4 linked regions of the Homo sapiens genome follow. The protein of the gene in region 1 binds, or shares a complex with, the protein of each later gene. Each region holds a gene or a part of one and is shown in the gene's direction. Other genes may lie near its edges.

Evidence for each region.
Region 2: ZBP1 (region 1) and RIPK1 share a complex: the UniProt entries of both Homo sapiens proteins name them as parts of the AIM2 PANoptosome complex.
Region 3: ZBP1 (region 1) and MEFV share a complex: the UniProt entries of both Homo sapiens proteins name them as parts of the AIM2 PANoptosome complex.
Region 4: ZBP1 (region 1) and AIM2 share a complex: the UniProt entries of both Homo sapiens proteins name them as parts of the AIM2 PANoptosome complex.

The regions. Positions count from the first base shown.
Region 1 is NC_000020.11:57,610,153-57,617,718, reverse strand, and holds part of ZBP1 (Z-DNA-binding protein 1), read left to right. Parts: intron 1-1,250; coding exon 1,251-1,475; intron 1,476-2,138; coding exon 2,139-2,207; intron 2,208-2,658; coding exon 2,659-2,832; intron 2,833-4,388; coding exon 4,389-4,556; coding exon of another isoform or gene 4,557-4,633; exon of another isoform or gene 4,634-4,828; intron 4,829-5,634; coding exon of another isoform or gene 5,635-5,651; exon of another isoform or gene 5,652-5,788; coding exon 5,789-5,992; intron 5,993-7,023; coding exon of another isoform or gene 7,024-7,186; intron 7,187-7,351; coding exon 7,352-7,566.
Region 2 is NC_000006.12:3,078,125-3,085,690, forward strand, and holds part of RIPK1 (receptor-interacting serine/threonine-protein kinase 1), read left to right. Parts: intron 1-2,854; coding exon 2,855-2,992; intron 2,993-3,810; exon of another isoform or gene 3,811-4,536; intron 4,537-4,960; coding exon 4,961-5,189; intron 5,190-7,134; coding exon 7,135-7,284; intron 7,285-7,566. UniProt on the Homo sapiens protein: Serine-threonine kinase which is a key regulator of TNF-mediated apoptosis, necroptosis and inflammatory pathways.
Region 3 is NC_000016.10:3,253,404-3,260,794, reverse strand, and holds the start of MEFV (pyrin), read left to right. Parts: upstream 1-4,161; 5' UTR 4,162-4,207; coding exon 4,208-4,484; intron 4,485-6,004; coding exon 6,005-6,637; intron 6,638-7,391. UniProt on the Homo sapiens protein: Involved in the regulation of innate immunity and the inflammatory response in response to IFNG/IFN-gamma.
Region 4 is NC_000001.11:159,073,620-159,081,292, reverse strand, and holds the start of AIM2 (interferon-inducible protein AIM2), read left to right. Parts: upstream 1-4,526; 5' UTR 4,527-4,660; intron 4,661-4,666; exon of another isoform or gene 4,667-7,106; intron 7,107-7,673. UniProt on the Homo sapiens protein: Sensor component of the AIM2 inflammasome, which mediates inflammasome activation in response to the presence of double-stranded DNA (dsDNA) in the cytosol, leading to subsequent pyroptosis.

The DNA.
Region 1 (7,566 bases):
CCTACCTGATTTTTCTCTTTTTTTGTAGAGATGGGGGTCTCACTATGTTGCCCAGGCTGGTCTAGAACTCCTGGCCTCTAGGGGTCCTCCCATCTCAGCCTTCTGATGTGCTAGGATTACAAGTGTGAGCCACCACTCCTGGCCCCATTCATTCATTCATTCATTCACTCAGTCACTCATACATTCAACTGCCATTTCCTGAGCACCTACTGTGTGCCCAGCACTGTGCTAGATGCTGAAGGTACAACAGTGAGCCATGCAAGCACAGCAGGGGACACTAGGGGAAGTTCTGCAGGGGACCCACACACAAGCAGCGTCCCAGCCACTCTGGGACACAGAGACAGGCTTTCCCTAGGAAGTGGCATCTGAGGAGGCCTGGAGGTTGAGTAGACATCATACAGGTTGGGGCGTGAGGGAAGGGTGCTCCTGGCAGCAGGAACAGTGTGCACAAAGGGGCTGGGGAGAGTGGGGCTGAAGGGAGCACAGACAGGCCAGCACTTGGAGGGAAGTTGGGGGCAGGTGCAGGCCAAGCTGGGTGGTTGGCAGAGCCAGATCTGGAGGGTACCTGACTGGAGCTGGCGGGCCAACGGGGAGCCTATCACTGTACCTAGGAGATGGTGAAGAGGAAGGGGGTGGTGCTGGCAGAAAAGAGAGGAGTGGGGGGATTCCAGAGAATCCAGGAATGGCATTTCCAGGGCTCCACGACTGGGCACTGGGGGAAAGGTCTGTTTCTGATGTCTGGTCGGTCTCTGGCTTGGATGGATAGTGGCGCCATGGATGGATGGTGAGCTGAGAGGAGGGCACTCCCGGGGAGGATGGCGATGGGCATCAGGTAAACCCAGGCAGGCGTCCCAGGCAGGACTTGCCTTTGCGCTCCCAGGTCCCCCTGCCTCCCTCTGGCTCCGTCCTTCTGCCCTCTACTCCCCTCTGCCCTGAGGACACCTGAGAGCTGAGGAACCCCACTGCCCTCTGGAACCCACACCCGGGGAGGGCACAGGCGAGGTGGCACCTCCCCTGGCCACCAGGCTGCGCAGCCAAGGCCGTTTCTGATCAGCCTGCATGCCTCCCTCTGGGCAGATGCAGCTGCCCTACTGCTCTTAGGGGGCATCTGCTGGGGTCCTTGCCCTTTCCTCTGCCCTGGACCCCTCTCAAAAAGGGGCCTACGTGCCTCCTGGAGCCTCCAGCCTGGGCTCAACTGTGGGGACCTGGGAGACTCAGTTCCCCTCTCTGTCCCCCGCTCGCTCCCCCAGGCCACCTTGAACAAAGAATCCTGCAGGTGCTGACAGAGGCTGGCTCCCCGGTGAAACTTGCCCAGCTGGTGAAGGAATGCCAAGCACCCAAGAGGGAGCTCAACCAAGTCCTCTACCGAATGAAAAAGGAGTTGAAAGTCTCCCTCACATCCCCTGCCACCTGGTGCTTGGGCGGGACTGATCCTGAAGGCGAGGGTCCTGCAGAGCTGGCCTTGTCCAGCCCTGGTAACTGCCACCCCGGGGAGGCGGGTCTGACCCTGCAGGGAGCATCCTGGCAATGGACAAGCACAGATTTGAGCCTGGGTTCGAATCTGAACTCTGCCACATGGGAGCTCACAGGTTTCCTCTCTCTGTGCCTTGGTTTCTTTTTCTGGTTGATGGAGCTCACAGCAGGGCTGCTTGGTAGGGGTTGCTGAGAGGAGGCCCTGCGTCAGGCTCAGCCCAGCCCTGCACACAGGAGGTACTCTGCAGAACACTAACAATTATAATAGAAAATCATCATGATGGAGACAGCAATGACGCCATGGTCCCAATCACAGAACATATGCAGTCCCACCAGCCCCCCTTTTCTAGCTTTACAGCCCACAGCCAGAAGGAGCTGCCATTTATCATGCACTTAAGATTAGCCAGGCACTGTTTTGGGGTTCACCCAGCCCTCACACAACCCCAGGAGGCAAAGGAGGCTGAGCCCCGGAGAAGTTAATCGGCAGGAAGCCGCAGCTGCCAGGGCGCAGGCAGGATTTGAAGTCAAGTGTGTTGAACTCTGGAGTCTGAGTTTGCAACTACCGGCATTGCCACTTACCCCTAGGGAGCTGCCCACCTTTGTGGGGTGGAGGCCTGGTGCTGTCTTCTGTCCCCCACCCCTCTGACCCATCTTTCTTTCTGCAGCCGAGAGGCCCCAGCAACATGCAGCTACAATTCCAGAGACCCCTGGCCCTCAGTTCAGCCAACAACGGGGTAAGTTTTTGCATGTCCCTTCAGTTCCCGGGACACAGGATCCCACTCCCCAGGAACCCCAGGCCCTCCTTGAGGGTACAAGATCTCACCAGTGTTCAGGGGCCCTGTCCCACCCACCAGGCAGCTCCCATACAGTGTTCAGAGCCAAGACCCAGCCCTCACAGTGGGAGAATCTGAATGGCTGAGCAGTGATTTCTCCAGTCAGACAATAGCTGACCCTCACCATGCACCCGCCACATGCCAGGCCCAGCGCAGAGCACTCTGTGCACATCCCCCACCCTCAGGGCACCTCTGCGGTGCGTCATGATGACCCCGTTATCATGACACCCATTTTACAGATGAGGAAACCAGGCCTTGAGGGGCTGGGTCCAGGGCCACACAGCTAGGAAGCGGTGGGGCAGATGCAAACCCTAGGACTACTCCCTAACCACCTGGCCATCCTGCCTCCCAGAGGAAGACATCTACAGGTTTCTCAAAGACAATGGTCCCCAGAGGGCCCTGGTCATCGCCCAAGCACTGGGAATGAGGACAGCAAAAGATGTGAACCGAGACTTGTACAGGATGAAGAGCAGGCACCTTCTGGACATGGATGAGCAGTCCAAAGCATGGACGATTTACCGCCCAGGTAGGCCCCCGGCTGCCTGTGTCTGGGCTGCAGAGGGAAACCATGACACTAGTGCTTGGTCTTTGCTGGGTGCTCTGCTGAGCAGCTCACCGGAAACTGCTAGAAGCTTCTGGAGGTCCTACCGACAATTCACTGCAAGGGCTTCCAGGAGGAAGGGGTGTGCTGGCAAGATTAACCAGGGACAGCTTTTTGGAGGCGTGGCCCAAGGTCTGCAGTTGCAGAAGGCCAGTGAATGGGACGGAGGTGGCCCATTCCCAATGTTCTCAGCTCTGGGGTGCAGGGATCAGTCTGAGTTTGGGAATGGTTTTCTTTGAGCACTTTGCTCAAGTTGGGGTTTAAAAGTTGGCAGAAGAGAAGGCAAGACTAGTCTTGGACCCCTACCGGCTGGAGCCCCAGGGTCAGCGCAGGGTCAGCTTCCCCGTGAGACCTAACACACACAGGGCCAAGATCCAATAGGTGCATGGCATTCTCAGGGGTCCTTGAAAATGTTTTAATTTTAATTTCATTTAAAATCAGAGGAAATGAATACTACAATAATAATGAATATCTAAAAATGGGCCAGGCACGGTTGCTCACGCCTGTAATCCTAGCACTTTGGGAGGCTGAGGCGGGCAGATCACCTGAGGTCAGGAGTGACCAGTCTGGCCAACATGGCGAAACCCCGTCTCTACTAAAAATACAAAAATTAGCCAGGTGTGGTGGTGGGCGCCTGTAATCCCAGCTACTCGGGAGGCTGAGGTAAGAGAATAGCTTGAACCTAGGAGGCAGAGGTTGCACTGAGCTGAGATCGCGCCATTGCACTCCAGCCTGGGCAACAAAAGCAAAACTCTGTCCCCCAAAAAATAAAATAAAATAAAATTTAAAAATCCAGCCTGGGTTATCCTTGCTATACAATGTAATTTAAATATTTGTGTATGGGGGAAGGGCCCACAAAGGCACAGGAGCTGAGACCCTGGAGGGTGGTGATGGGCCCCGCACAGTCTGGGCAGGTGCCTGCCTCAACCTCTGCAGGGCTGACTCTGCTACTCATGACGGGTGCCCGAGGGGGTCTCAGCATCCTAGGGCTGCTGTGAGGAAGGAATAACGCGTGACAGCCACCAGATTTTAAACACTAGTGACAAATTCAAATATTGAAAATGTCATGGGAGCCAAACACGACCGATCTGGCCCAATGGGCTGCTGTTTCTCGGCCATTACTCAAGGGAAAAGGGCAATGGTGCAGGTGCTCGGGGGTCCGGGCTGTGGCTGCCCCCTAGGGAGAGCAGTGTGGGGCCCCTGCGGTCCTCCCAGCCAGCAATCATGGCGGCCCAGCCATGGAGGCAGCAAAAGACACAGGTAGGGTGACTCACAGTGGCTATTTTCAAGTGAGGCTCCCTCTGAGGTACCTGTGGTGTCTGTTAAACACCCAGCTCTGGCCTCCCACTTGGCCCTACTGACTCGGAACGCCCAGGGTATTTTAACAAGCTCCCCAGGAGAATTTGGTGCTGCCGACTGGTATTGGGAACCCCTGACCCATAGACAGTGGCAAAGGGATACAGTTGAATATTATTTTGCAGAAGATTCTGGAAGAAGAGCAAAGTCAGCCTCAATTATTTACCAGCACAATCCAATCAACATGATCTGCCAGAATGGACCCAACAGCTGGATTTCCATTGCAAACTCCGAAGCCATCCAGATTGGACACGGGAACATCATTACAAGACAGACAGTCTCCAGGGAGGACGGTAAGTCACCCAAGAGAGCCCAGGGAGGGGACCTCGGTGGGGAGCCACCGGATCCTCTGGGTGGGGGCAAAGGGTAGGGATGGGGAGTGGGGGGATTCTGCCCTCCAAGGGGAAAGGGTTGCTTCCAGACCCCCACAGTCCACCTTTACGGCCGTCCTGAGAATGAGGACACCTGGATCAAAGCTCTCCTGATTTCCCTGTACTCTGATACTTTCTACCTCATTTTAAAGTTTAATTTAATTTTTATTTTTCTAATAAAATTTTAAAATTAAGATGGGGTATCTCTGTGTTGCGCCTGACCTTATGCCTCATTTTCAATGGGGTCCGGTGTTTTTCATGAGAAACAACTCAATTGCCTTTCCCTCCGCGGAATGCTACAGGGGAGGTTATTGTAGTACCGTATTTGTTCTGAGACACGCTACTTTCCCCCACATTTTAACAGGCTGGAAACTGGGGTGCATCTCACCACCTGTGGCATCCTAGTTTGGATGAAATGCGGTGTTGCACTTTGAGCACTTACCCTGTGCCGGGCACTGTGGCAAGAGGGGACAGAGCCACCTGTCAGCCCAGCCTTGTCACCTGTGAGTGACAGCATCAGCCCCAAAGTCGGGACACTCCCTGTAACCTTGGGAGAACCTTTCCCCACTGTCAGCCTCAGTTGTGAAATGAGGAACCTTGTTCTAGAATCTAGATCATGGTTTCCCTAGCTTTAATCTTCTGAGCCCCACCTTCCTGATTCTGGCCATACCCATGTCTGATTATTTAATTAATGTTGTTGAGTAGTGCACCTTTTTAAAAATTTATTTTAAAACAATTTTATAGTATTATTTTAAGTGTAAATCATGAAAAACACCATAAAAATAAATGTTGTCCCTGGCAGTTAAAACACTGCGGGAGGCTCTGAGCCTTTGGTGTTGGCACCAAACGAGACTTGGTCCCCATGAGGTCAGAAGGCTCGGGAGTGACTGGGAATCAGAACAAGGAGCTCATTGTTTGGGTTTGTGAGTGTCCCTGCAACACCCAGGACCAGCCCCGCTCCTGAGAACTCAGGGAGCCCCAAAATGAGCTATTCCGCCAGGTCCTCTTGCTCTCTAAGCCAGAGCCTGAAGTCTTTGGCCGCCAGTTCGATGGTGTCCAGGAAGAATTCAGAGGACAGGCCTGCGTGTGGTGGTGAGGGAAAGGAAGAAGCCTGCAGTAATCTCCGGTGAGGCTGTGCCACTGTCCCCTGCCAGGTTCCGCCGGTCCACGCCACCTCCCTTCAATGGCACCAGGTGATTCCTCAACTTGGGGGACCCTAGTTGATCCCTGGGGGCCCCAGGACATCCACATGGAGCAGTCCATACTGAGACGGGTGCAGCTGGGACACAGCAATGAGATGAGGCTCCACGGCGTCCCGTCCGAGGGCCCTGCCCACATCCCCCCTGGCAGCCCCCCAGGTAACTGGGATCTAGAGGCCAGACCCAACTCTGCCACCCCGTGGGTCCTCACTGGAAGGAACTGGAGCCAGAATCTTTTTGGGAAGAGAAGCATGATGGGAAATTCCTTTCCTTCCACCAGGCAGCTGAACCAGAGTAGAGCAGGTGGGGCTTTTAAAGCTAGCACTCTAGGCTGGGCGCGGGAGCTCACACCTGTAATCGTAGCACTTTGGGAAGCCAAAGCGGGTGGATCACCTGAGGTCAGGAGTTCGAGACCAGCCTGACCAATATGGTAAAACGTCTCTATCAAAAATACAAAAAAAAAAAAAAAAAAAATTAACCGGGCATGGTGGCTTGCGCCTGTAGTCCTAGCCACTCGGAAGGCTGAGGTAGGAGAATTGCTTGAACCTGGGAGGCAGAGGTTGCAGTAAACGGAGATCGCACCACTGCACTCCAGTCTGGGTGACAGAGTGAGACTCCATCTCAATAAATAAATGAATAAAATAAAGCTAGCACTCTGGATCCCCATCCCCTACGACCCACTGCAGGAAACCTCAGTTTCCTCATTTGTAAAATGAGCAGAGAAGCAGAGGCTGGGCCAACTGGAGCAGGGTGATGGTTTGAGACTGGAATGGTGTTTAGGGAGGATGGAAGACAGGTGCCGTACTAGGAGCTGTGGCTGCAGTGACCAGAGGGCCCCAGGCAGAGGCCTCCCCCACACTGGGAATGCAGAGATGGGCTGGGGGAGAAGAACCAGCAGAGAAGCCAGAGAGGGAGGAGGAAAGCAGAGGCCCCGGGAAAGGAGTCTCCAGAGAGGGGCCAGGCTGGTGAGACCAGGGAAGCATCTGTGGGGTTCAGCGAGAGGGATCGTGGTAACCTTGAGGGGGTGGTTTCTGGGGGCCAGGGAGCAGAAGAGGTCTCGGGGGTGGAGGGGGCGGGACTCAGTGTGGATGATTCTTCAGAAGTTTGGGTGGGAAAGGGCAGAGCCAGATGGCAGGAGCTGGGGCCAGGCTGGGAGCCCCCATAAGATTTCAACCAAAAGTGGGGGCCAGTGTTCCAGTGCAGTGGGAAGCAGGCAGCAGAGGAGAGAGGAGCTGAATCCCAGAGGAAGACACTGACGTCCAGATCAGCCGGGCGGGATCAGTGGGGCAGACCCACTGCGGGATCAGTGGAGCAGAAAGACGCTTCCCAGACAGCACAACAGCACGAGCGGAGGTGTGGCGGGTGGAGGTGTGGCGGGCAGGCACAGGCTGTGCTCCTGGGATGGTGTGGGCCACTGGTGGGAGATCTGGGGAGGAGGGTGAACCAGGCTGGGGGTCAGGGTTCCCGGCCACTGTCCAGCTGCTCCTGGCTCCAGGCCTCTCTCCCTTTGACCCACAGTCTCTGCCACTGCTGCCGGCCCAGAAGCTTCGTTTGAAGCAAGAATTCCCAGTCCAGGAACTCACCCTGAGGGGGAAGCCGCCCAGAGAATCCACATGAAATCGTGCTTTCTCGAGGACGCCACCATCGGCAACAGCAACAAAATGTCTATCAGCCCAGGGGTGGCTGGCCCAGGAGGAGTCGCAGGGTCTGGAGAGGGGGAGCCAGGGGAGGAC
Region 2 (7,566 bases), on another chromosome or scaffold:
TGGTCTCAAGTGATCCTCCCACCTCAGCCTCTCAAGTAGCTGGGATTACAGGCTGGATTTCCTGAAGTCAGTTTCTCCTTAAAACATCTATGCCTTGATTGGGCTCCGTGGGTCACTTCTGTAATCTCAGCACTTTTGGCAGGAGGATCACTTGAGCCTTGGTGCTCAAGACCAGCCTGGATAACACAGTGAAATCCCCTCTCTACAAAAAATAAAAGGTGCATGTGAACAGAGCAAGACCCTGTCTCTGAAAAAAAGAGAAAATCTTCCTTGCCTTTTACTGCCCTGAGAGTGGTCTCTTCATCCTCTCGATCCTGTGGACAGTCCTCCATAGTCTGTGTCTTAGGAATGTGATTGGCTGTTTACCATACCTGTCCGCTGCTCTGCAATCTACAGTTCAGAGACAAGCCCTGTCTTCATGATGCAGACATCATCTGATGTAGAGTATATGCATGATGGGATGACATTAAATATGGATTAATGAAAGGATATACACTATAAATGACCGTGAGAGCAGATAGAATATTAGTGGTTGCACTTTGATACCATTCAACAAAGTTTTATTTTAAATTAAATATAGAAATTATTGGCAACAACACTGGATAGGATTTAAAACAAAAATAAAAATTGTTTACCAAAGTCAAATGATTTGAAAACATTTTTAAAAGCTTATGTGCCTGTTAAGATGAAGGCCTTGCGCTAGTTGCTCATGAATCAATAGCTAATATGACGTAGGAGAGTAAAAGGAGGCAGATAGCTAAATAAGTGGTATGGTGTGATGGGGTTTTTTTTTTTTCTTTTGTAAGAGAACAAGGTCTCACTGTGTTGCCCAGGCTGGAGTGCAGTGGCACAATCATAGTGCACTGCAGGCTTGAACTCCTGGCCTTAAATGATCCTCTCACCTCAGCCTCCTGAGTAGCTGGGACTATGGGCATGAGCCACTGCACCCAGCTGTGTGGTGGTATTTTTTTTTTTAGAGGAGTCTCGCTCTGTCGCCCAGGCTGGAGTGCAATGGTGCAATCTCGGCTCACTGCAACCTCCACCTCCCTGGTTCAAGCAACTCTCCTGCCTCAGCCTCTTGAGTAGCTGGGATTACAGGCGCCTACCACCATGCCTGGCTATTTTTTTAATTTTTAGTAGAGACAAGTTTTCACCATGTTGGTCAGGCTGGTCTCGAACTCCTGACCTCGTGATCCGACTGCCTTGGCCTCCCGAAGTTCTGGGATTACAGGCATGAGCCACCGTTCCCAGCTGATGGTGTTTTGATAGACATACTCATTGCTGAGGGAGTACACATGAGAGGCACCCACTCAGCCTGGAATAGACAGAAAAGGCTTCCAATGTGAAGGACATGTAGACGTTTTGAAGCAGAGAATTAGAGAACAAGTGTTCTAGGCAGAGAGAATACCATGTAGAGACTGCCAAATTTGGGGAACTGTAAATTCCTGGGTTTGGCTAGAGCATAGATTGCACAGGGTATGGGGAGGGGTGGCGGGATATGGCTGCCTTTATGGCAAATACTCCCACTTTTCCACTTTCTTCTCCCACCCCACAATTGCCAAGCCAACAGACATCTCACAAAAATACCCTTGGGAAGGAGAAGAGGTGATCACTTATACGCATGGTATTATAGTTTGATCAGATTGCTCTCCACCCCAGAACTAGAGAAGATCAGCTGTTTGAAGTAAACATTTTGATTGGGAAATAAGTCTTTGGTCTCCCATCCAAGTACTAACCAGGCCCAACCCTGCTTAGCTTCTGAGATGAGAGAGAAATCATTGGGGACATGAGGCATTGTGCAAGATGAGGGAAAGTTCAGGTGCACCTGTTTGGACTCAGTCAGGGCATCAGGAGGACCTGAGAGAGAAGCAGAAAGAGAGGAGAGAGGGGGACCAACTTTGCTTACTCAGAAGTTTTTCCTAAGTCCAAAGGTATACCAAGGAAGAAGAGAAAACATCTTTTCTGCTACTTTCTGTATGGTGGTGATCAAGCTATTAACAGTGTAGCTCTGCTACGTTATGTCATAAATATGGTTTGAGGGGGAATCTCACTTCTATCATTAAAATTTTTTTCCTGTTAACCAACGACCAAAATACATATACATTTTTAGGAAACATCTTGTTTGTATACTGATTTTTTATTGTTAAGCAAAACTGTAATTTAACCACTATAATAGAAACTGGAATTGTTTCTGTTAGTATTGATGCTCACATAACAAGAATACAATTATAAGAACCAGTGACCTGAGACTCTACAGAAGCCTGAAGTATCTGCTACCAGGTCATCAAATAGATATTAATTCACTTAAGCGTAGTTTTAACATCATGTTTATCTCAGATTTTTCTATGATTGTAATCAGTGTGAACATGTTCCCTTGTATTCTTTTTTCTCTTAATGTTATTTTACACGCGACATTTGCATGGCATTGTTCATGTCCTTAATGTAAACTTAGTATGATGTCGTGTGAGTATCCCACAGAAACTGCTTGCTCGTATATTTATTCATCCATTCATTCAACAAGCATTCCAGGTACAATCCTAGGTTCTAAAGATACAGTCCTAAATAATATATATTTTTGTTCTCAAGGAGCTTAATTTTATAGTATTTTATGCATTACCAAATTATTGTGGGATTTTTGTTTTTACACTAACAAAATACAACACGAATACCCTCTGCCCCCCCCCGAATGAAATCTTTCTTGTTTCCCAGTGACAGCAGTACTGTGGTGCACCTGCTGGAAGGAAACCTGGTAACCTTCTCCTCAGGCTCAGATCCCACCACCCTTTCATGAAACAGTTGCTTTGGCCTATTTGATAACCTTTCCATTTCATAGACTTAATATCACTTGTTTTAGATGAGTACTCCGCTTTCTGTAAAAGGAAGGATAATTTTGGAAATCATTGAAGGAATGTGCTACTTACATGGAAAAGGCGTGATACACAAGGACCTGAAGCCTGAAAATATCCTTGTTGATAATGACTTCCACATTAAGGTAAACCATCATCGGTAGGCTTCCAGAAAGTTGGGTGATTTTAGTTTTAATTCTCCAATGTAAATCCATTCTCGTACATTGGAGAAGCTAAAGGAAGACCTAGCTCAGCTTATAACTGTTGATGATGGTGCCGAAAGGCTCTACCGGTGATTGAGAGGAAGGCTGCAGGCTTGATGGGATCAGGAGATAACTGTCAGGATAACTCATATCTTTTGGGGGAGGAGTGGAGTTGAATGGGGTAGATGAGAAGACCTCTTTCCTAGACTGTGTTTTTTCCTCTGTTAGAAACATTTAGAAACATTCAAGGGTTGCCCTTTTCATCCTGGAATGGGCCATTGGTGTCATAATGTTCTCCAGGAAATCTGTGTCACCAAGACTCTCCTCCTCTGGAAATGCAGGGGAATGTGAAGGTGTGTGCGGAAAATCCTTAGAGTTCAGATATGGCCTAAGAGTGAGATCAGCGGCCGGGTGCAGTGGCCCACGCCTGTTATCTCAGCACTTTGGGAGGCTGAGGTGGGCGGATCACCTGAGGTCGGGAGTTCGAGACCAGCCTGACCAACATGGAGAAACCCCATCTCTACTGAAAATACAAAATCAGCCGGGCGTGGTGGTGCATGCCTGTAATTCCAGCTACTCGGGAGGCTGGGGCAGGAGAATCGCCTGAACCGGGGAGGTGGAGGTTGTGGTGAGCCGAGATTGTGCCATCGCACTCCAGCCTGGGCAACAAGAGCGAAACTCTGCCTTAAAAAAAAAAAAAAAAAAAAAAAAAAAAAAAAAAAAAAAAAAAAATCAGCAGTGCATCAAAAACCTCTACTTTGAAATTTTGTTTTATATTTGTATTCGATTGTTTACTTCTGTCTGTATTTTAAAAATCAGTTTCCTTTGAACACATTCTTTCCATTGTCGTAAAGGGAACAAGGGAAAGGGATTTTTCTTTTGTTCATTCAAGGGCAGGATTTAGCTAGGGGGAGTGTCATATCTAATTGGCTTCTGCAGCAGGAATCCAAGCACAAGAATCCAAAAGGGGAAGCGGAAGGGGAAGCAGCCCTGGGGGAGGCACCCAGGAGCTGCTGACACAGGGGCCTCTCATCACCAGCAGGTTCTGCGTCTAGCGCTTTGTCCTAGTCTTGGACAAAGGGCTGGGAATAAAAATTCCTTATTCATAACCTATCTTCAAATTCATGACTTCCCTCTTATGTCGTGGGTTAGAATCTGTGAATTTTAGGTACTCATGTGCCACAGTTCATCCCCACATGCTTGCTTGGATTCCTGGAGGCAGAAGTGGAACTGGCACCTATATTCTCTTCTGAACTGTGCTGCCCTGTCATTTTGCCCTGCCAGCACTGTTCTTGTTCTGTGTCTGACCTTGCTATTTTTCTCTCTGCTTTTTTGTCTGTTTTTCTCCTCCTTTCCACCCTATCTCCTCTTAGGTTCAGGCTACAGCTCAAAACAAGCAACACTGCAGTCCTTATCCTCAGTGTGTCTTTGGGATCCTTGGACACTTGCATCCATGGGCCTCTGGACGCCATTTGGGGAAATAGAAGGTGTAGTATTTAGCCACTGTCTGCTGCATAAATGTGCAGAGAAGAAAATAACCATTTTCCCCCCAAGCCCTAGAAATAGTTGAAAAACATACGCAGAGTCAATGGGGAATGAGAATAAATATGTTTGGTTGTTACTGTTCTTGTCAGAAACATCTTCCGCTTTTCCCCTCCCCCTTACTGCATAAGGAATACGATACCAGAATTTCATGTGAACGTTTCCTGGGCGACATTTTACAAATGGCTGAGGAGACACACAGTTTCTATGAGTCTGTTGAGAAGTCGCTGTTTTGAACCTGCCCAGTGCAACCATTTCTGGAAAATTTACCGTACCTTATGTATAATGGATAAGCCCAAAATTGAAAGTCAGATCTGATTTGCTTACGGCCTTCACCAAACAATCCCAGTGGCTCAATGTCTTTCGCAGATCGCAGACCTCGGCCTTGCCTCCTTTAAGATGTGGAGCAAACTGAATAATGAAGAGCACAATGAGCTGAGGGAAGTGGACGGCACCGCTAAGAAGAATGGCGGCACCCTCTACTACATGGCGCCCGAGCACCTGAATGACGTCAACGCAAAGCCCACAGAGAAGTCGGATGTGTACAGCTTTGCTGTAGTACTCTGGGCGATATTTGCAAATAAGGAGCCATATGAAAGTAAGGCATTACTTACTTTCCACTGCCGTCCCCTCAGCATCTACACGCACTGTGCCTGGAACTAATAGGTGCCCAGTAAATTTTTGTTGAATGAATGAGTAATCCCATTTAGGAATCAGTGATCATAGGATGAATAGGAACCTCGATAGTGTGTCATTAGCTGGAGAGGTGCTGTGAAATTCCAGGGTTCTTCCTAGACAGGAAAGTTGATTGTTTCTGCTTGTGAGGACTTAGCCTTTCACACTACAAGGCATACACTTCATACTTTCACTCATTCACTTGCTCCTTCATTCAAGAATTATTTCTTTTCAGTCCCTACTGTGGGCACTTGAGTCGGCATTGGGAATATAAAGATGAGTAAGTCGTGGCTTGTGTAGGATAGAGACACTCTGCAGTTTGTTAAGTGCATAAACTGATGGATGTTGTCCTACATACTCTTCTTGGGTGATCATCAGCTCCCATGGTTTGATGATCATCTCTTTGCAAATGCTTCTTAAATCTGTGTCTCTGGCTCTGGAATGGATATCCACTTGTCTTACAGTCAGATCCATCGCAGGTACCAGAGGAACCTCCAAAGCAGCATCCCCCAAACACATCCTGTCGACACTGTCCTGCAGCTCGCCCCGCTTCACCCCTCTTCATATGCTTGGGAAGTGGCATCGCCATCCTTTTACCAAGTTGTTGCCCAATAAGAAACTTCAGAGTCATCCCAGACTCGCCCTTGCCCCTCTCTCCCACATTCTATCAGATCTCAAAACCTGTGAATTCAAGATATATGTATGACTCAAGATATATCTGCAACCCATCTGCCTTTCTCTGTCTCCACTGGCCTCTGCTCAGTTCAAACCCTCCTCGTTTCTGCAGCAGGCTCCTTCCACCGTCCACCATTCATGTGGCAGCCAAAATGGTCGTCCTAAAAGGCACATGCAACCCTCTCCCTCACATATTGGAAATCCTTCCCAGATGCTCTGTGGTCTTCAGGATGAAGTTCGAATTCCTCAGCGTGGAATAAAAGGCCTTCATGTTCTGGCCTTTGCTTCTCTACTGGCCTCGTCCCTAACCCTCCCTTCTTTGTCAGTGTGCAGTTACACTGAGGAATTTGTGGGATGCGTCATGATCTCTGTAACTTCTAGTCTGTTGATATCCTGCTTCTCTTCCTGGAGTCCTCCTCCTTAAGTCTCCCTTTCCCATTCTTTACCTGCTAATTTTTCTGGACTCAACAAAGCCTTCCTGGACCTTTTTAGTCAGGTTTGTGCTACTGGAACCCCTTGTACATCCTTTTTTTTTTTTTTTTCCCGTGAGACAGAGTCTCATTCTGTCGCCAGGTTGGAGTGCAGTGGTGCAGTCTCGGCTCACTGCAGCCTCCACCTCCCAGGTTCAAGCAATTCTTCTGCCTCAGCCTCCCGAGTAGCTGGGACTACAGGTGCACACCACCATGCCCAGCTAATTTTTATATTTTTAGTAGAGACGGGGTTTCACCATGTTGGCCAGGATGGTCTTGATCTCTTGACGTCATGATCCGCCTGTCTCAACCTCCCAAAGTGCTGGGATTACAGGTGTGATCCACCATGCCCAGCCTCAGCCTTCTTGAATAGCAATGATCACTCTGTGTTTTAAGTCACTCTCATTAAACTGAGCTCCTAAAGACAAGGACTGCCCTGTATTTGCTTTTGCACATGGAGCATGCCATTGGCCTTGCCCACATAATCTTTTTGTTCCATCAGCAGGCAGCTTTGTCGAGAATTTTGTTTTATCTGCAGACATTAAGATATTGTTTGGTCATCTCTGTAGTGGAATATGTCAGCTCCTTGTCATAAGGCCATTCCACTCTATGGAATGAGGCAGCTGTACCAGAGGCTGAGAAAAATGAGCAGTATTGTTCAAGTTCTGTCACCTTCCTGCCTGAGAGAGGAGCAAGACCTGAAAGAAAGTCTTTGCTTTGTAGATGCTATCTGTGAGCAGCAGTTGATAATGTGCATAAAATCTGGGAACAGGCCAGATGTGGATGACATCACTGAGTACTGCCCAAGAGAAATTATCAGTCTCATGAAGCTCTGCTGGGAAGCGAATCCGGAAGCTCGGCCGACATTTCCTGGTAAGAGCATCTTTTCTGACTGTGTAGGATGCATCCTGTGTGGTGATTTTCCTAGTAACATATTGTTAGGAACTTGGTTTGAATCCTCAGAAAACTGAGTTCGACTTGACTTGTGGTTTTAAACTGATTTTCTAGATTTCAAACATGTTATTCAGTGCAAAGAAGCCCTCTCTCTCAAAAGCATGATGGCACATAAGGCCTTCTTGTTTCCTTTTTTTGTAATTAACTTTTTAACTTGGGTTTAAATATACGTAACATGAAATTTAACATTGTAACTGTTTT
Region 3 (7,391 bases), on another chromosome or scaffold:
AAAAAAAGAATGTGAGCACTGCAAGAAGTTTTTTTCTGTTCAGTTCTGTATCAGTAGTACCTAGAATAGCATCTGGCATACAGCAGGTGCTCCAAGAGTAAATGAATGGCCCTGTGGTGCCTCTTCCTAGCTAGACATGTGTTCAGTATGTCAATTAACCCATCTAAACAGGGTGGGCAATTGTCCCAATTTCCCCGGACTGTGGTCGTTCCCAGAACTAGGCTTTCAGTGCTAAGACTGGGCAAATTGGGTTTTGCTCCTAGACAAAATGTGTTGGTCACCCTACCTGTAAGCCTACATTTCATCATCTATGAAAAAATAGTTGGCTGGTCACGGTGGCGCACGCCTGTAATCCCAGAACTTTGGGAGGCTGAGGCGGGCGAATCACAAGGTCAGGAGTTCAAGACCAGCCTGGCCAACATGGTGAAACCCCGTCTCTACTAAAAATACAAAAAATTAGCTGGGTGTAATGGCGGGCACCTGTAATGCCAGCTACTCGGGAGGCAGAGGCAGGAGAATCGCTTGAACCCGGGAGGCGGAGGTTGCAGTGGGCCATGATCTTGCCACTGCACTCCAGCCCAGGTGATAAGAGTGAGACTCTGTCTCAAAATAAATCAAGTAAATAAATAAGTAAATACTATATACCTCCTTTATCATGATGGTTTAGGGGCACGGGACTGATACTCCCTTAGAAGTTAAGCTAATTGTGAAAGACTTTTTTTTTTTTTAAATACGGAATCTTGCTCTGTTGCCCAACCTGGAGTGCAGTGATGCAATCTCGACTCACTGAAACCTCCACCTCCCAGGTTCAAGCAGTTCTACCTCAGCCTCCGGAGTACCTGGGATTACAGGCGCGGGCCACCTCACCTGGCTAATTTTTGTATTTTCATTAGAGACGAGGTTTTGCCGTGTTGGCCAGGCTGGTCTGGAACTCCTGACCTCAAGTGATCCACCTGTCTCGGCCTTCCAAAGTGTTGAAATTACAGGCGTGCGCCACCACACCTGGTCTGAAAGACTTTTTAAAACTATCTTTTTTGCTTATTACGAAAGTAATACAATCTTCATTTTTTTAAATCCCAAAATGTGCAGAAGTAAATGCCATAGAAAGTGAAACCCCTGGTGACCAGGAGTGGAGTGAAGGTCGTGGTGTCTGAGCCGCACATTTCCCAGGAGTAATAGCCGAGAGTAGACCCTTTGCAGCAGCTTTGTTGGGTTTAGATTTGCCATGTCACCCCAAATAAGGTCACACATCCAATGGCAGGGGCACACAAGACAGCCCATGACCATTCCACTTTGATTATTAAACACTTAAATGACGTTAGAAGGGCAATAATTCTATTTTCACTGTGAGAAATTACTGGAACCCCTCCAAACAAAAGCTTTGTGAGCCTGCCTTGCCCTAGAAAGTCCAAAGTGGCATCAAAACACTGCCTTCCAGAAGTCCTGCCTCAGAGCAGCCTCTGTTGCAAAACGTGTCACCGCAATTGCAAAATATCCTGCTTTAGACCAGAAAGTATCATTCCCTGCCCAATTCTGTCATGGGGTTTTGGTATCAGCTCCGAGGAGTTTTCTGACCAGACGAGATGGGATCACACAGCACCCACAGCGTCACTGCACAGTCTCATCCTTTCTCCATCTGGTAGTGGGAGACTGCCTGGGAGGTGCTGGGTTGCCACCGTCCAGAGTCAGGGACGGGTGCTGGCCCCAGTGATACCCCATTCAACACCCTTCTTCTGGCCCAGCCTAAAAATTCCAAAAATCTGCTGTCTGCACCATCAATGTGCATTTCATCCACTTTTTTTTTTTTTTTTTTTTTTTTTTTTTGAGACAGGGTGTCTTGCTGTGTCACCCAGGCTGGAGAGCAGTGGTGCAATCACAGCTCATTGCAGCCTGAACCTAGGCTCAAGCAATCTTCCCACCTCAGCCTCCTGAGTAGCAGCAGGGACCACCAGTGTGTGCCACCACACCCAGCTAATATTTTTTCTATTTTTTGTAGAGGCAGGGTCTCCTTATGTTGCCCAGGCTAATCTCAAACTCTTGGGCTTAAGTAATCCTCCTGTCTCAGCCTCCCAAGGGCTGGGATTGCAGGTGTGAGCCACTACACCCAGCCCAATTCACCCTTTTTTTAGGGAAGATGTTGGGTTTGGGCTCAGAAAGATCTAGCAAACTGCATGTTTGTTGTCAGCTATGAAAACAATGCAAAAACACCAAATACTCTGTGAAATAGGAAACAGGTGGACCAGCTGGACAGTAAGTTAAATTCAACCAACCAGAACTCATCAAAGCCTTGAATCCCAGGCTGGGCACACACAGAGGAGCTCACACCCAGAGCTGGGTGTTCAGCTAGGCGTCGCAATGTTGTGACTGACCTGTGGAAGTGACCCATCCTGGACCTCAGTGGTCAGCTGGAAATGTGACATCCATGGGTAGTCATTAACAGTAAAATCACAAATTATTGTCATGCAGGAGACGATGTTGTGAAGTGGTTTGACGTTTGGATCTTGGCTCTAGGCAAGTCACTAAGCTACAGATTCTTGGCTGCACAGGGGGATGATAAACGCAGCCCTGCAGGGTGCTGCAGAGATTCTAGGAGGAAGTGTTTATAAAGCTAGTGGTGGCTGGTGCCGAGGAAGTGCTGGTGAAGGGTAAATTGCATTATTAACAAAACTTCTGGCCGGGCGCAGTGGCTCACACCTGTAATCCCAGCACTTTGGGAGGCCAAAGCGAGTGGATCGCTTGAGATCAGGAGTTCAAGACCAGCCTGCGCAACATAGTGAGACCCTGTCTCTATAAAAAATACAAAAATTGGCCAGATGTGGTGGAATGCACCTGTAGTCTCAGCTACTTGGGAGGCTGAGGTTGGAGGGTTGCTCAAGCCCAGGAGGCAGAAGTTGCAGTGAGCCAAGATCCCACTACTGCACTCCAGCCTGAGTGACTGAGCAAGACCCTATCTAAAAATAAAAAAATTAGGGTATGCAACGGTCAGAAGTAGGTAAGTGAGGAGTCAGTTCACCCTACATGTAATTTTTCATTTATTTATTTTTTTTGAGACAAAGTCCCGCTCTGTCGCCCAAGCTGGAGTACAATGGCGCAACCTCGGCTCACTGCAACATCTGCCTCCCATGTTCAAGTGATTCTCCTGCCTCAGCCTCCTGAGTAGCTGGGAGTACAGGTGCGTGCCACCATGCCTGGCTAATTTTTGTATTTTTAGTAGAGATGGGGTTTTACTGTGTTGGCCAGGCTGGTCTTGTACTCCCAACCTGAGGTGATCCACCCACCTCGGCCTCCCAAAGTGCTGGGATTACAGGCGTTAGCCACTGTGCCCTGCCCCCAACATGTAACTTCTGTTAGCTTCAAAGCCACCTCTGGGGCCCTGCACCACATATGAGCTGAAGGACACCCGTGCCTTTTCACCCGTGTAGCTCCAGCATCTTGGCACACTGTCTAGAATGTTCAATGAATGTGCACGGAAGAGCATTCTGGCTCCAGGGAGCGAGGACTGAGTCAGCTCTGGGAACAGATGAGTCAGGCTGGTGGTCCAGGCATTGCTTTTCAAGTCCTTCATGTGGCTGGAAGAACCAGTCAACTGGAACCGGATCAACAGGGGTGATGGCATGGCAAGAGTTATCTCCTGGCAGTGCCCTTCTGGCCTCACTTGCCTTCTTGGGCCAGGAAAGGCAAAGCTCACAGGACTGTATTCAGTGCCCACCCCTTCCCCCGTCCTGTGCCATTGGCTCTGGAAGGTCCCTGAAACCCCGAGTCTGGAGGAGAACAGTTGACCAGCAGGGCGGGCCCTCAGCATAGTCCTCTCTGTTCCCACTCACCCGCTCTGCCAGCCCCAGATCCTGGCAGGAAGGAAGATTGGAGGGGGTGTCTGGAATCCAATCCCAGACCTTCCCTTGCAGACTTGCCCATCTGTCTGTGGTCTAGTGTGGAGGCGAGGTCCAGGGTTTGGGAGGGGTGTGGGGGCACATGTCTGCCAAGGCATGGAGCCCTCCCAGCTGGAAAATCCTCTGAACCTGTAAGAAGAGAACACAGCCGGCATGGACACACCCTTACCCTTAGTCTCAGTTCCCACCAAGACACAGAGCATTTCCTGTGCCTTTTCCGCTATTTCACAACCTGCCTTTTCTTGCTCACCAAGGACAGAGGCTTCTTTTCCTACCAGAAGCCAGACAGCTGGCTCGAGCCTCTCCTGCTCAGCACCATGGCTAAGACCCCTAGTGACCATCTGCTGTCCACCCTGGAGGAGCTGGTGCCCTATGACTTCGAGAAGTTCAAGTTCAAGCTGCAGAACACCAGTGTGCAGAAGGAGCACTCCAGGATCCCCCGGAGCCAGATCCAGAGAGCCAGGCCGGTGAAGATGGCCACTCTGCTGGTCACCTACTATGGGGAAGAGTACGCCGTGCAGCTCACCCTGCAGGTCCTGCGGGCCATCAACCAGCGCCTGCTGGCCGAGGAGCTCCACAGGGCAGCCATTCAGGGTAAGCGGGCCCAGGCCTCCTCCTCATCCAGTGCTGAGTGCTGGCTGCTTTGTGGGAAAGGGGACCAGGAGCTCAGAGCAGCTCACTCTGACCTGGGGATTGGGAGTCTCAGGTCTACCAAAATCCAGATGACTTTAGTTCAGGAACGTCCCTTTCTTCACTCTGGCCTTTGGAACTGGGTTAGTAAACTTCCTTCAGGCTCCTAATGGGTTTTTTAAGAAGCAGGTCAGGGTCACGAAAGGCAGGAGCTGGAACACCTGTTCTTTGAGACTTCTTCACTACATTTATGATTAATACTCATGTCAGACAAACATCTCTAGGTTAGCAAAAAGGGATTGCTATGCAATCATATGAACGGGGTTGGTATAGAATCTTCTCAGTGCTGTTCACCATGTTGGCCAGGCTGGTCTCGAACTCCTGACCTCAAGTGATCCTCCCGCCTCAGCCTCCCAAAGTGCTGGGATTTCAGACATAGGCCACCGTGCCCGGCTTATTTTTATTTTTAAAGCGTATAATCTGGGTTTTGCTGACCTGTGTAAGATCTTATTTGAAACAGTTGTCCTGCTTAAAACGTTTGAAAAGTACTATTTGAGAAATATAGGCTAGGCATGGTGGCTCACACTTATAAATAATCTCAGCACTTTGGGAGGCTAAGGTGGGTGGATTGCTAGAGCTCAGGAGTTTGAGACCAGCTTGGGCAACATGGTGAAACCCTGTCTCTACCAAAAATACAAAAAAATGAGCCAGGCGTGGTAGCACACACCTGTATTTTCAGCTATTGAAAAAACAGAAAACAGGCTGAGGTGAGAGGATTGCTTGAGCCTGGGAGGCAGAGGTTGCAGTGAGCTGAGATCACATCAGGGCAACAGAGCAAGATCCTGTCTCAAAAAATAAAATAAGAGAGAGAGAAATACATAGCAACATCAAGCATGTTCTTACTGAATGGTAATTGACTGCCATTGTCTAGTCTAGGAAGTCCTGAACTTTTGTTTTTGAGATGGAGTCTTGCTCTGTCACTCAGGCTGGAGTGCAGTGGCCCGATCTCAGCTCACTGCAACCTCCACATCCCGGGCTCAAGCGATTCTCATGCCTCAGCCTCCCGAGTAGCTGGGACTACAGGTGCGCACCACCGCGTCTGGCTGAGTTTCTTATTTTTAGTAGGAACGGGGTTTTGCCATGTTGGCCAGGCTGGTCTCGAACTCCTGACCTCAAATGATCCTCCCACCTTGGCCTCTGGAGAAGCTGGGATTACAGGCATGCGCCACCACGCTCAGCTTATTTTTGTATTTTTAGTAGAGACGGGGTTTCACCCTGTTGGTCTTGAACTCCTGATCTCAGGTGATCCTCCCGCCTCGGCCTCCCAGAGTGCCGGGAATACAGGCATGAGCCACCGCGCCCGGCCCGTTGTTTTCCTCAATTTCTAAACTTTAATATCCAAGGGGATTCTCTCTCCTCTGCCCTGAATCTTGGGCCCTAAACGTGGGACAGCTTCATCATTTTGCATCTGGTTGTCCTTCCAGAATATTCCACACAAGAAAACGGCACAGATGATTCCGCAGCGTCCAGCTCCCTGGGGGAGAACAAGCCCAGGAGCCTGAAGACTCCAGACCACCCCGAGGGGAACGAGGGGAACGGCCCTCGGCCGTACGGGGGCGGAGCTGCCAGCCTGCGGTGCAGCCAGCCCGAGGCCGGGAGGGGGCTGTCGAGGAAGCCCCTGAGCAAACGCAGAGAGAAGGCCTCGGAGGGCCTGGACGCGCAGGGCAAGCCTCGGACCCGGAGCCCGGCCCTGCCGGGCGGGAGAAGCCCCGGCCCCTGCAGGGCGCTAGAGGGGGGCCAGGCCGAGGTCCGGCTGCGCAGAAACGCCAGCTCCGCGGGGAGGCTGCAGGGGCTGGCGGGGGGCGCCCCGGGGCAGAAGGAGTGCAGGCCCTTCGAAGTGTACCTGCCCTCGGGAAAGATGCGACCTAGAAGCCTTGAGGTCACCATTTCTACAGGGGAGAAGGCGCCCGCAAATCCAGAAATTCTCCTGACTCTAGAGGAAAAGACAGCTGCGAATCTGGACTCGGCAACAGAACCCCGGGCAAGGCCCACTCCGGATGGAGGGGCATCTGCGGACCTGAAGGAAGGCCCTGGAAATCCAGAACATTCGGTCACCGGTAAATTGTGTTCTTTCCTACTTTATATCGGCTGCAGAGAAAGAATGGCTGGCCGGGCACGATAGCTCATGCCTGTAATCCCAGCGCTTTGGGAGGCCAGGGCGGGAGGATTGCTGGAGGCCAAGACTTTGAGACCAGCCTGGTGAATGTAGTGAGACCCCCGCCATCTCTATAAACGAAATTAAAAAAATAAAAACCCAAAGGTTGGGCAGGGCGTGGTAGCTCTCGCCTGTAATCCCAGAGCTTTGAGAGGCCTGCACGGGAGGATCTCTTGACCCCAGGAGTTCCATACTAGCCTAGGCAACACAGTGAGACCCCATCTCTACAAAATACAATAGTGGCACGCGCCTGTAGTCCCAGCTGCTCGGGTTCACTTGAGCAGACGGAGTTCCAGGCTACAGTGAGCTGAGATCATGCCACTGCACACCAGCCTGAGCAACGTAGCCAGACTCCACTTCTACAAAACTAAAAAAAAAATTAGCTGGGTATGGTGGCACACGCCTGTAATTCTAGCCACTCAGGAAGCTGAGGCAGGAGGATTGCTTGAGCCAGGGAGTTCCAGGCTGCAGTGAGCTGAGGATGTGCCACTGCACTCCGGCCTGGGCAACAGAGCAAGACCCTGTCTCTTAAACATTTTGGGGGGAAAAAAAAAGAAAGAAAGAATGTCCGATTGAAAAAGGCAATCAGGTGTTATCAGTGGCCAAAGAATGGAGAAGGGGAGCTCACCTCTGCAGGCGTCTGCTTGCCAGGGATG
Region 4 (7,673 bases), on another chromosome or scaffold:
CCCCTTTACAAAAACGTTAGTCCTATCTTGTAAGGTATTTTATTCACACAAATAACAGGATTTCTTTCATTATGGTATATTTTTAGAATGAAGGGGGGCAAATATCTTTTGTGGAATATTACTGTTGCCCTGATGATGAAGTTCCTGAATCTGAGTCTTGAGTATGATGATTCACTGTGATATTTATGTGTACATTCATGATAAGTTGAGTTATCATTATGAGTATAAAAATCTTCATAATTTCTTATTGAATTTTCTGTAGAGAAGATGCATGGAGAAGATAAAAGCAAGGTCCCTGTACCCTAATAGTTATGTATTTTGTGAACAAATGCTTTCATGAAGTCATAGATTATCTAGTATTAGACTGGCCTGTGGCTCTGTCTTTTGAACTCATGGGAATCACTGTGAGCCAAGATGAATAAGTTATAGGTTCTATTCCACTTAAGTAAAACATTTCAAGAGTCTGAAGATTTAAAGTTTGTTGAAGGCATATCAGAACTGTTCTTTTGTTTATTTACTATTAGAAAATGCAAAGGCATATGGACATTGCTTATTAGTTTAAATGCCAGAGATTAGATATTAAAGCAGTGGTTCTCTAAGTGTTGTGTCAAGACCAACAGCATCAGAATCACCCAGGAACCTGTCAGAAATGCTGGGGGTGAGGCCTAAAATCCGTATTTTTCACAAGCTTCCCCCAGGAAATTCTAATGCATGCTAAAGTTTGGAAACCACTGTTTAAAGGATACATTTTTTAAAATTAGCATTTAATTGCATTGAGGTGTTTGCTTTTACTTGTGATTTCTTTACAAAAGTTCTGAAATTGAGGCATCACTAAACAAGTCTGAACAATTCTTTATATGATGTATTTCTAAAGTATACCTTTTTAAGAAATCTATGGACAAGATATGAAAGTCTTCAGAGTCATAGATTTTCTCCTTATTCTTAAAACTGTTCAATGCAGTACTTATTAGATACCTTTCGTTTGCTCATAAACATTTATTGACCAAATCATTGTATTAAAAACCAATTAGTGGTTTCTTACAAGACTAAACATACTCTTATTATATCTTATTATACAACACAGCAATTGCATTCCTTGATATTTACCCAAAGTTGAAAAATTAAGTCCACATAAAAACATGCACACAGATATTTATAGAAGGTTTATTCGTAATTGCCAAAACTTGGAAGCAACCAACGTGTTCTTCAGTAGGTGAATGGATAAACAGATAAATGGAGACAATGGAATATTTTTTAGTGCTAAAAAGAAATGAGCCATCAAGCCATGAAAAACCATGGAGGAATCTTAAATGCAGATTACCAAGTGAAAGAAGACAATCTGAAAAGGCTATATACTGTATGACTTCAACTATATGAAATTCCAGAAACAGCAAAACTATAGAGACAGTAAAAAGATCAGTGGTTGCCAGGATTTGTCGGGAGAGAGATGACTAGACAGAGCACAGAGGATTTTAGGGCAGGGAAACCACCCTGTATGATACTGTGAGGGTGGATACTCATTATACATTTGTCCAAACCCACAGAATGTACAACACCAAGTGTACCCTAGTGGCAACTCTGGAGTCTGGGTGATAATGATGTGTCATGCTCAGTCCACCCTGGTGGGAATGTTGATAATGGGGAGGCTGTGCATGTGTGAGGGAAAAGGGTATATGGAAACCTGTACCTTCAGCTCAATTTTACTGTGAGCCTAAAACTGCTTTAAAAAATAAAGTCTACTAAAAAGAAAAAAACTGGAAAAAAAATGCAAAGTGACATGCTTTTGTGTGTGTTCTTTCTCATTCATCAAATTCGGTATTTATTTGATAACTTGCTTTTTTCTCCATTCGCTCTTGTTTAAATGCTTATTAGCTGGTTATTATTCATCGGGGCATAAACCTGTATATTTCTTATTTTTTTTCTCTCCTGTTTTTCCATTTTATTCTTTTCTAGGCATACTTTTAGAAAGAGATCTTCAGCTTTATCACTCTATTAGCTTTAAAACTTTTCTGCTATCACATTTAGAAAATATATTTATAAAATCTCTTCTGTAATTTGTTCATTTTTTACAAGTATTAGCACTGTCTTTTTGTTTCATGGATGCAATGTCTTTTCTTATCTCTCTGATGACCATATATATTTCTTCTTCTACCCTCTGCTTTGTCCTTAAGTTCCTTCTTCTGATTTGTTTTCTGTTTTTTTTTTAAGTTGGAGGCTTTTCTGAATGTTATTTATGTCTGTTTACTCATATTTAAGAAAGAAATGTCCATACATGTATACACACAAAACTGACTTGAATTCTTTTTGCGTTGGCCTGGTTTATTTATGAGTTAGTTTAATTATAGGATTGGCACGAAAGGGCCTGAGTCTTTGTATTGGAAAACTCAAAATGTCAGTAACGGTGAGAGTTTTTCCCTTCTTGGGCCAGTTGCTACAGTAGGAGCCTCCAGTCTTCTGCTTATGGCATAAACCTTGCTGTCAGTACTCTAGAAGTCAGGGAGGAAAGGGCTTGGGGATCCCACTTTTCTCCGTGAGACTGTTAACAAACCTCCTTTTTCAGCACAGTTGCCTCCTTTCCCTTCTGTGTCTTGTGTCACCAAGTTGGGTATCTCTCTGATTAAATTTCTTGGTAAAACAAAGCTGGACGATGAGTACTTGTCTCTCTGCCCCAGGTGCAGCAGTGTACCTGCTCCTCATTGAGACCACTTCCCAGCTTAATCACTTAACTCACCTTTTACAGGACCTGAAGCCTCAAATCAGTACGCCTCTCTGGGGTTGGTGCTTGTTGGGTTCTTCCTCAACAGGGAGCTTTCTCTCGTTTACTCAGTAGGTTACCAAATTCATACACTTCACATCTTTTTAATTCTTACATATTGTTCTCTTTGGTGTTCTTTCGCCTTGTGTGATCCACTCATTCATGCATTCACTCATTCAACGAATATTTTCTGAACACCTTCTCTGTGCCTGGCACTGTGTCAGGTGAAGTGGATGCAGTGAGCCAGTGGGCAGAAATCTCTTCCCTCATGTGCCTTACATTTTAGGAGCATGAGGCAGAGAATAAACAAACAAATGACATATACCGTATGTCAGATGATGGTCAGTAACACGTGTGGGAAAAGATAATGTGGGGAAGAGGTAGAGAACATGCTGGTCAGAGAAGCCCCACAGATAAGGTGCTATTTGAGCTGAAAGCTGGCAAAAGTGTAGAAACAAGCCTTGCAGTAGAAAGTGAAGGAGGTCCTGCAGCTCTGGGCTGATTACCTGGGCATGGTTAGGTGCTCTTCCTCTGCTCCTTGAGCATCTTGAGCATGCTTTAATTATAACACTTATCATCATGTCCTATTGTGATTATTAAATCACATGTCTGTTTTCATGACTTGGCAGAGCCGCTCAACATCTGGAACTTTGTCTTACTAACTTTTATATTCTCAGAATCTAATACATCATATTAGATGTTCAGTGCATAATTGTTAATTCAATGAATAAGAAAGGAAAACCTCAAGTAAATTGCTGACTAGAATCAAGCCCTCAAGCTCTGAATTTAGGGTTAGGAGCCTGGGTTAGGAAGAAAGACTGTATATATGCTTTTGAGGCAAGCAGTCAGTGAGGGAATGAGGCATGATTACTTGCAGGTGGCTACAAGCAATAAAAATGCGGTCAAAAAGGTTAGCAGAGGGATTGCCCCACTAGTAGATAGGAACTGTTACAACAGCCTGTGACAATGAAGACAGATTGCAAACTTCCTACTTAGGCACAGATGAGAATGTAACACAGAAGAAACTGGCCGCAACTGGTTAAAGCCAAGATGGTCGAAAACTTGGCTGACTGCTGACCCTTAGCTTCATTATGCCCTTAATATCATAAAACTTCCATGGGGAAATTCCCACTCCCATCATGCACCTGACGCCATGACAGTTCCGGATTAACCATCTTTAGTCAAGAAAAGGGTGGCACCCCGATTCCGGGAATTGCCCGCCCATTTCCCAGAAAACCCCTCCCCTTGATTACAGAGTACTCCATACCTTCATTGTGCTTATTCATATAGTACGTGAACCACATTGCCTGTGACTCAAATCTTTGAGTGCCTGCACTCCTCCCTTGAGGGTGTCGTTGGTTTTGCTCCACAATAAAATGTCTATACTTTCGCTTGGGTCTCATTTTCAGATTCTCTTATGCTTTGAAGACAAGAACCTGCACTGCCCTACTGGCAACACTTTTAGATACCCTCTGAGATCAGTGTGCTTGTTTATACCAGAAAAATGTCATCACCAGGCCCCTTAGTCACAAAGTGTATCAAGAAGTCATCTGCGGTCATTTTTTACAGTTTCTAGGCCACTTTCTGTTTCCAATCAGTGTAGTTCCTATGTGGCATGACTCAGATACAAGTTTCTATAGACATTTTCTTCTGTGGCTGCTAGTGAGAACCCAAACCAGCTCAGCCAATTAGAGCTCCAGTTGTCACTCCTACCCACACTGGGCCTGGGGGTGAAGGGAAGTGTTTATTAGGGGTACATGTGAAGCCGTCCAGAAGTGTCAGAGTCTTTGTAGCTTTGAAAGTCACCTAGGTTATTTGGGCATGCTCTCCTGAGTCCTCTGCTAGTTAAGCTCTCTGAAAAGAAGGTGGCAGACCCGGTTTGCTGATCGCCCCAGGGATCAGGAGGTAAGCACCATAGAGGAGCTGGGTTAGAGACGAGAGACTTAACCGTTTCTCTGCTGAAAAAGACAACTGAGGAAAGGCCAGCCATGCTGTGCACACCTCTGAGAACCTGAACCTGCAAACATGGACATCAGCTCTGAAAGGATGGGTTCATTTCTCTTTTATTCACTTTAGCCATGTCCTCTGGTGTCTCTGAGCTGGTGTTCCTTAAGCTTCGGCTTCCTTTGGGGTTTGTCTATCAGCCTATTTGTAAGGCTGACTTTTATGCCAATAGCAAATACAAGCATTTTTTAAGTTAACAGATATTATGAAGTAAAATGCAAGTTTTTCATTTATAAGGCAACATAACTTCAGAGAAAAAACTGAGTCAATCACATAAAATGTGATTAAAATGTGATTGTTATTATATAAGAGGGTTATAGGAAGATTAGCTTCTTATGGACAAGTAGAAAAGTAGGAATCATCCAAGCTGATTGTCACAGTAGATATTCAACAAAGGTAGTGTCCTTCCTTGCTTTCATCAGTAGGATGGGGGCATTTGGATGGCTTTATCATTGCAAATATTTTTAATGTATTCCTTATTTTGAAAATGGTCCTGATAATAGTTTTAATTTTCACTCATGAACTCTACATGTATAAGTAGAGTTTCTCCAGCGCTTACCAACATATAGGAAAAAACATTATAAGGCCATTAACAGTGATAGTTTAGAATTTATTAACATTGACTCTACTGATGGGGGTATTCAAGCTTCCCTAAAATTCACAATCAGTTATTTTCAGCTCATAAACATCTTTTCCTGTTCTTTGGCTTATTTCTTCCACTTTATATGTTGCTGCTCTGGAAGTCATTAATTGCTAATAATGTCAAACATCTTTTTTATGTTTATTGGATATTTGAGCAAATTGCTCATTCACATCTTTTGCACACTTTTCAAATAGACTGTTGTTTTCTTATTGATACATGGTTCTCCATGTATTCCAAAAGCAAAACCTCTATTAGCTCTCTCTCTCTCTCTCTCTCTCTATATATATATATATAGCAGGTATAGCCATATATATATGTGTGTGTGTGTGTGTGTGTGTGTGTGTGTGTGTGTGTGTATTGCAGGTATCTGCCCAGTTTTTGCCTTGTATAATCACTTTGTTTAGTGTGTGTGTGTGCACGGATGTGTGTGTTTCCTACAAAGAAATTGAGAATATGCATGCAATCACATTTGACAAATTTTTTTTTTCTGGCTTGTCCTTTTTGTGCCTTATTTAAGGAACCTCCTTCTACTTCAATGTATTGAGAAATTCTGTGTTTTATTCAACATCATTACTATTCTATTTAGATAATTAATCCAACCAGATATATATTTTGTGTATGATATAAGAGAAAGGCTGAATATATCATTCCCTGTGTATTGTCATTTGTCTGAACACTTTTTATAGTTGGCCATTCTTTCCTTGTGATTTTTAATGCCACTTTGATTATATACCAAGCTTTAATTTACATGTGGTCCTGTTTCCACACTCTATTTATTAGTTCATTTTTTTCTACGCCACTGCCATACTGATTTAATAATTATACATTTGTAGTAAGTATTGATACCTAGTAGTAGGGATAGTACATCCTGATAAACATATTCAACTTGTTTTGCAGGTTTTTGTCTTTATTTTTTTCATTTAGGTTTTAGGATCATTCTGATAAATTCTATGAAAAACCCTTTGAGATTTTGGATAGGAGTTTATAGATTAATTTGACAACACTGCTGTCTTCATTTTATCAAATCTTCCCATTTAAAATATCAGACATACACCCACTTAAGTAGGTCCTTTAAATCTCCCAATAAAGTTTTATAAGTTTCCCTTTAAAACTCTTAAATATATTGTATTCGATGTTCTTATGTACTTTGTAGTTTTGTTGCTATTGGAAATTACTTTTTTTATGTAATTTTTTTCTCTCTTGGAGTGGTACTAAAATAAAGGAATGCATTTCTGTATATTAATCTTATAGTTATAAACTGTTGAATTATTATTTATAATGTTTTGTGTATTATTTTGGATACTATACATAAACAACTATATTACTACAACGTGATTTTGGCAACAAGTTACAAAAATAGGTTGATGGACAGAATAAAGAATCCAGAAATAGACTCACTCATATTTGGACAACTGATTTTTGCAAAGGTAAAAAAAAAAATCATTAAAAATGACAGTCTTTTTAACATATGATTCTGGGAAAATTCATATTCATATGAAAAATAAATGAACTTTGAATCATCACTTATATCATATACAAATTAACTCAAAGCAGTACATACAGCCAAATGTGAAATGATCAAACCGTAAAATTCTTACAGGAAGACATAAAATCTTCTAATCTTGAGATTGGAAAAGATTTCTTAAATAAGACACTGAAAGCATGATCCATGAAAGAACAGATTGATTAATTGCACTTCATCAGGTATATGTATATGCCAAAATTTATCAGATTGTATACTTCCAGTGTATGCACCGTGTTGTATGCCAGTTATGCCTCGATAAATCTATTTTAAAAATAACAGGAAAATGTATCCTGTTTCCTTTTTGTTGTTGTTGTTGTTGTTGTTTTGAGATGAAGTTTCGCTCCTGTTGCCCAGGCTGGAGTGCAATGGCGCGATCTTGGCTCACTGCAACCTCCACCTCCCAGGTTCAAATAATTCTCCTGCCTCAGCCTCCTGAGTAGTTGGGATTACAGGCGCCCACCACCATGCTCGGCTAATTTTTGTACTTTTAGTAGAGATGGGGTTTTGCCATATTGGCCAGTCTGGTCTCAAACTCCTGACCGCAGGTGATCCGCCCACCTTGGCCTTCCAAAGTGCTGGGATTATTACAGGCGTGAGCTACCGCGCCCAGCTAATGTATCTTGTTTTCTGAGAATTCCAGAGGTGTTGTATACTTTCTGAAGATGTCTTTCCCAGGAGTAGTGATCACCTTGCTTAAGAAGTTCTTACCTATGTCCTACTCAAATCTCTTTTACTACTGCAAATAT